Homo sapiens: one gene and its partner. The protein of the gene in region 1 interacts with the protein of each later gene in a biochemical or structural test. Each region holds a gene or a part of one and is shown in the gene's direction. Other genes may lie near its edges. The genes, in order: SFRP2 and PPP1CC.

What was found.
Region 2: the proteins of SFRP2 (region 1) and PPP1CC form a complex in vitro, tested with the Homo sapiens proteins (one study listed by BioGRID).

Annotation. Positions count from the first base shown.
Region 1 is NC_000004.12:153,779,948-153,783,270, reverse strand, and holds the end of SFRP2 (secreted frizzled-related protein 2 precursor), read left to right. Parts: intron 1-1,515; coding exon 1,516-1,820; 3' UTR 1,821-2,680; downstream 2,681-3,323. UniProt on the Homo sapiens protein: Soluble frizzled-related proteins (sFRPS) function as modulators of Wnt signaling through direct interaction with Wnts. They have a role in regulating cell growth and differentiation in specific cell types.
Region 2 is NC_000012.12:110,722,536-110,726,217, reverse strand, and holds part of PPP1CC (serine/threonine-protein phosphatase PP1-gamma catalytic subunit), read left to right. Parts: intron 1-1,453; coding exon 1,454-1,558; intron 1,559-3,522; coding exon 3,523-3,682. UniProt on the Homo sapiens protein: Protein phosphatase that associates with over 200 regulatory proteins to form highly specific holoenzymes which dephosphorylate hundreds of biological targets.

The DNA of each region.
Region 1 (3,323 bases):
TAATCAGTCCATTTCTCCCACCATGGTGAGGTCTATCCAACACCCTACTCCCAATGCAGAGGACACAAAAGCATGAAACATTTCCACAAGTATGGCTTATTCCACGACTTGAGTCTCAAAAACTGAGAATTCAGTACCACAGTTCAGATGCATATCATACCAGACAAAACCATGGTTGGCCAAGTCATAGCATTTTTGATTTACCTGCTAGAGATTCTATAATTTCCTGGTTGACTAGAAAGCCATACTCAGTCAAATTCCCATTCTGATATTTAAAAAAAAAAAAAAGAAAATCTCAAAAACAGTTGTACGCAACACAGAAAAATCTTCCTCTATTACTAATTTAAACATAGATTAAACTCCATCAAAGTCAGGAAGTCATACTTACACATCATCTATACAGAATAGCTGTCAGGGGCACACAGGGTCTTAGGACACATTGCAGCTGGGCAAGTTTATGCTGCAACCACTACAAAAACATGGACATTGCCTCAAGACACCACAGTGGTATTACAGGAGGAGGTTTGGCAACTGGAGTTCTAGCAAACAACCTAAACTGGGTGACCTCATGCAAGTCACTAAACTTCTCTGGATTTAAGATTCTTTGTGTATTAACAAGCAATTTTAATGGGATGATCCCTTCTAACCTTAAAATTCTATTCTTTTCCTGCTTTCATGGAGTCTTGAAATTTAATTCCAGCATACACGTTTGTAGGGCTTTCTTTCCCAGAGCATACTGTTCATGACTATAAAACGTGTCCTTTATAGTAAACCACTTACTTTTGGTCTTCGCATTCTAACGAGTCTACATATACATTTTGGAAACAGTACATATATGATCCGTAAACGCCTTGGCCTTGGACTGGCAAATGAGAGCATATAAGGATGAGGTCTTCAGAAAAACACTTTTATGACTAACCACGTTGTGCTGTTAAAAAGAGACTTGCATATTGTTTCTCCTGCTTTACCAAATCAAATGCAGCTGTAAGATCAATTCTCCTTCCCTGTAATCTGATCTTTAGAAAACAATGATTGCGTGACACAGTTTCCTTACAGGTTTGTCCAAAAACCTCTTGCATAATAAATTGAGTTTAAACTTTACGGCCACAGAGGGATCATATTTCACCTAAAAGTCAGGCATTTCTTTTCATGCTTAAGTTTCCAACAGAGGAAGTCATTTGTTGGAGAGAGCACACACCACATGCAACTTTCTTACAAACACAAGGGTGAGTGAGGAAAGGAGAAGAAAAGTTAATTGAGTCCCGCAAAGAGAGAGTTTTGAAAAAATGGCTGATTGGAAACCAAGTGCCTGGCAAATGCTTTGAGGCTTTAGCAGTGGAGCCACCTGCTGCCCCTAGCTCCCAACCCCCGATCTGCAGCCTCTGAGGGTCCCATTAGCTCTAGGAAGCCTCTCTTTCCTCATCCAGGCCAAGTCACACGAGTTGGCAGAATGGGGGGAGGTATACTGTATTCCCTCATTATAACTGGCATGACTCTTTCTGCCCTCCCTCATAGCACTGAAAATAAAAGTGAAGGAGATAACCTACATCAACCGAGATACCAAAATCATCCTGGAGACCAAGAGCAAGACCATTTACAAGCTGAACGGTGTGTCCGAAAGGGACCTGAAGAAATCGGTGCTGTGGCTCAAAGACAGCTTGCAGTGCACCTGTGAGGAGATGAACGACATCAACGCGCCCTATCTGGTCATGGGACAGAAACAGGGTGGGGAGCTGGTGATCACCTCGGTGAAGCGGTGGCAGAAGGGGCAGAGAGAGTTCAAGCGCATCTCCCGCAGCATCCGCAAGCTGCAGTGCTAGTCCCGGCATCCTGATGGCTCCGACAGGCCTGCTCCAGAGCACGGCTGACCATTTCTGCTCCGGGATCTCAGCTCCCGTTCCCCAAGCACACTCCTAGCTGCTCCAGTCTCAGCCTGGGCAGCTTCCCCCTGCCTTTTGCACGTTTGCATCCCCAGCATTTCCTGAGTTATAAGGCCACAGGAGTGGATAGCTGTTTTCACCTAAAGGAAAAGCCCACCCGAATCTTGTAGAAATATTCAAACTAATAAAATCATGAATATTTTTATGAAGTTTAAAAATAGCTCACTTTAAAGCTAGTTTTGAATAGGTGCAACTGTGACTTGGGTCTGGTTGGTTGTTGTTTGTTGTTTTGAGTCAGCTGATTTTCACTTCCCACTGAGGTTGTCATAACATGCAAATTGCTTCAATTTTCTCTGTGGCCCAAACTTGTGGGTCACAAACCCTGTTGAGATAAAGCTGGCTGTTATCTCAACATCTTCATCAGCTCCAGACTGAGACTCAGTGTCTAAGTCTTACAACAATTCATCATTTTATACCTTCAATGGGAACTTAAACTGTTACATGTATCACATTCCAGCTACAATACTTCCATTTATTAGAAGCACATTAACCATTTCTATAGCATGATTTCTTCAAGTAAAAGGCAAAAGATATAAATTTTATAATTGACTTGAGTACTTTAAGCCTTGTTTAAAACATTTCTTACTTAACTTTTGCAAATTAAACCCATTGTAGCTTACCTGTAATATACATAGTAGTTTACCTTTAAAAGTTGTAAAAATATTGCTTTAACCAACACTGTAAATATTTCAGATAAACATTATATTCTTGTATATAAACTTTACATCCTGTTTTACCTATTCTTTGTCTTCTGTCTTGTCTTCTTAGTAAAAGGAACTGGGAATGGAGCTATGTATGGGTGGTCACTTCCTTCCATGAGCCCAGCCCTCCAGCAGTTTAAAGTGATCTACTTCTCAAGTGACTCAGAAAGTGTCTCCCCCTCCACCACCATGCCCCACATCTCACAGATTTCACCACTTTCACCCTGTGGAAGCAGCGACTTGCAGCCTCTAGAAAGGGGTTGCCTTCTTTTGACCCTTCTGAGCAGTCCAGCTGCAGCTATGTGGAAACATTACCCTAAACTTAAGGTTTATGAGCTTTACAGTTGTGCTTTTCATTTCCTGAGATTTTTCATACCGAAAAAGAATCACCACTGCAAAAATGTTAATTCCTTCCCCGACTCAAATCTAACCCTCAGATAGAGAGAGCCATGATTTGGAGAGTATCCACTGGAATGCAAGGAGGAGGAAGGGGATGGTGAAAACTTGAACTAGGGTAAAAAAGGAGAGACAGACATCTGTCCATTAAATGTCTCTTAGTCCTTTCCAACTGCTATAACAAAATACCATATACTGGGTAGTTTATAAACAACAGAAATTTACTTCTGACAGTTCCAGAGGCTGCAAAGTCCAAGATCAAGGTGGCGGCAGATTTTGGTGTCTA
Region 2 (3,682 bases), on another chromosome or scaffold:
CAGGGTGGGAGGTGTGGTTCAGGTCAGTTGCTTGGGCTGGCTCTAACTCTCAAAGGAGAGGTATAGGTTTAAACCTTTAGATGTCCCTGTATTCCCCAGGAAAAGAGACTAAGGACAAACTCTTGGTTTGTTTTGTTTGTTTTGTTTTGTTTTTTGAGACGGAGTTTCGCTCTTGTTGCCCAAGCCGGAGTGCAATGGCACAATCAAGGCTCACCGCAACCTCCGCCTCCCAGGTTCAAGTGACTCTTCTGCCTTAGCCTCCCAAGTAGCTGGGATTACAGGCATGCGCCACCACGCCCAGCTAATTTTTATATTTTTAGTAGAGACGGGATTTCTTCATGTTGGTCAGGCTGGTCTCAAACTCCCAACCTCAGATGGTCTGCCCGCCTCGGCCTCCCAAAGTGCTGGGATTACAGGTGTGAGCCACCGCGCCTGGCCAAACTCCTGGTTTTTAAAGATTGTGCTTAGTATAGTAAGTACAGGAAACAAAGGCATCTGGACAATTGGACAATCCTCAACCAATCCAGAGAAATTTGTTCTTGCAAGGTATGTGACTAGGTTTTAAACTCAGAACATCAGTTTCCTGTAGAAACAGTGCATAGAGGCATATTTCTGTCAGAACTGCACTCTGACTCCAGAATGTGTGGATGCCTGTGCTGTTGAGGGAACATGACCATCCTGTGACATCAGGCCTGTGGGAGCATGTGGAGTCTGTGCAGTGTTGGAAACAAATGCCCTGTAGTGCCTGTGAGAGGCAGCCACTGCCGTGTGATCATTGTGCCTCCTGCTAGAGTACTGAGGGCTGGGGATCCTCTGGTGTCAGTAGGTTATTGAGGGGCATATATGGGGGATGGGTGCTAACTCTCAGGTTTCCTCAGAAGGAAGGTCATAACGCCACATGTGTAAGTTCGTAATTGAATTCAGAAGTAGGGGACTAGCTGCGGTGAGATTGGACAGAGCAGACAATTTCAAACAGAATTGATGCTCCCAGATAATTCCTGGGATTTGATGGCAGTCCTTAATCATTATCAAATCTGGAATTCTGGTTTCATGCTTCTGTGGAATTTAAAAAGATTTCATGTGAAAATGTAAGTCATTGCTTTTAGATCAGATATGTGTCTCTCCTAAACCCCTTCCCTCTAGGAGAGTCTTTCTTTAAAGAGATGGGGTCTCACTATGTTGCCCAAGATGGTCTTGAACTCCTGGGCTCAAGCCATCCTCCTACCTCAGCCTCCCGAAGTGCTGGGATTACAGGTCTGACCCACCACGCCCAGCTCTTATTTTAAAAGAGCCTTAAAATAAGATGGTTTTATTAAGATTCTTAATAAAAACATAGTTTCATTTGCTTAAAAGGCACCCAGAATCTTGCTTTGGGGGAAGTTAATCCTGAGAGAATGAGCCTACGGAACAGTAATACTCTCTTTTTAATGTAATACTCTCTTTTTAATCACAGGTAAAAGAAGATACAACATTAAACTATGGAAAACTTTCACAGACTGTTTTAACTGTTTACCGATAGCAGCCATCGTGGATGAGAAGATATTCTGCTGTCATGGAGGTAGGTGGGCTGATTTTTGTTCCAAATAGGTTTTGATCCCTTCCAAAGGGTGAACACTTTAACATTTGTGAGTTATCATTGGGATGACTTTCTCTGACAGAACACTCTCCTTTGTTGATGTGTTGCATTGCACTTTCACTCTGATACAGCCAGGATCATTTGGATAAAAATCTTAAGGAATTGATTTATTACAGGGAATTCTAGACTCTGTAAGCTAGGTTTGAAAATAGAGCAGAAAATTTTTATTTTTATTTTATTTTTTGTAAGGATGAGTTCTCACCACGTTGCCCAGTCTGGTCACAAATTCCTGGGCTCAAGCAGTCCTCCTGCCTCGGACTTCCAAAGTGCTGGGTTACAGGTGTAAGCCACTGTGCCCGGCTTAGAAAAGTTTTTGGTTTTTTTTGTTTTTGTTTTTGTTTTTTGAGACAGAGTCTCGCTCTCTCACCCAGGCTGGAGCGCAGTGGCACCATCTCGGCTCACTGCAAGCTCTGCCTCCCAGGTTCACGCCATTCTCCTGCCTCAGCCTCCTGAGTAGCTGGGACTGCAGCCACCCGCCACCACGCTTGGCTAATTTTTTGTATTTTTAGTAGAGACGGGGCTTCACCGTGTTAGCCAGGATGGTCTCAATCTCCTGACCTCGTGATCTGCCCGCCTCGGCCTCCCAAAGTGCTGGGATTACAGACTTGAGCCACCACGCCCGGCAGAAGAGTGTTTTTAACTATAAAATGAACAATGTGTAATTTGTTGTGCCAGAGATCCTCTAGAACACTCAAGATGTGAGTAGATTTTCCCTTGATTGTTTTTTATCCTCTCAGAACTTTCTCTGACTTGGATTTTAAAAGTTATTTTGGCCAGGCATAGTGGCTCGCATCTGTAATTCCAGCACTTTGGAGAGGCCAAGCCAGGAGGATTGCTTGATGCCATGAATATGAGAACAGCCTATAACATATCGAGACCCCTGTCATTAGAAAAAGTTGTAAAAGTTAGCCAGGTGTAATGGTGCACACCTGTAGCCGTAGCTATTTGGGAGGCTGAGGCGGGAGGATCGCTTGAACCCAGGGGTTTAAGGCTGCAGTGAGCTATGATCGCACCACTGCACTCCAGCCTAGGCAACAGAGCAAGACCCTATCTCTGAAAATATATACATATATATGTTATAAGCTGTTTTGCTTTGCTCAGTGGTTGTGCTTTCTATAATGTAATTAAAATAGTAATTGCAAAGAGAATTTCTTTTCCTGTATGGTCTGAAATTAATCAGCCATCAAAAAGCCTGCATAATGTCTTTTATCTCTGTGCTTCTGTACTTAGGTTTTGGTAGAGTTGGATACATGGTTTTTAACTCTTACAATATGCATCCCATATTGTAACTCGATACAATAAGCTCTTGTAGATTTTAGCCATCAAAAAGCCTGCATAATGTCTTTTATCTCTGTGCTTCTGTACTTAGGTTTTGGTAGAGTTGGATACATGGTTTTTAACTCTTACAATATGCATCCCATATTGTAACTCGATACAATAAGCTCTTGTAGATTTTAATGGTCTGTGAACAGTGCAGGTTTCCTAGAGAACTACCTCACACTGAGCATCCTTATCTTCTCAGCTCAGTCATTATAAGCCATCAATCATAACATCGCTCATTATTGTCATCAACTGGGGGAAGCCCATAGAAGAGTTTTTTAAATCACTGGATTTTATTTTACAGTGTTCTGTATAATATAATTGTTTCCATGTACTGTTTAAACCTACTGCACCCCATGCATTACTGCATGTAATTCTAGTGTGTATCCAGTTGTCCTTTTTCTGTGTTTTTTTCTTTTAACCAAAAGTAAATAAAATATAATCATAGATTTCAGTTTTTATGTCAGGATTATTGAATTTCTCTGTAGACAAATGGAACTTTTGAAGGGGTAGTATCCTTTTAAAAGTTCTGCTTTCTTCATTTTTTTTTTTTCCTCATTGAATAGGTTTATCACCAGATCTTCAATCTATGGAGCAGATTCGGCGAATTATGCGACCAACTGATGTACCAGATCAAGGTCTTCTTTGTGATCTTTTGTGGTCTGACCCCGATAAAGATGTCTTAGGCTGGGGTGAAAATGACAGAGGAGTGTCCTTCACATTTGG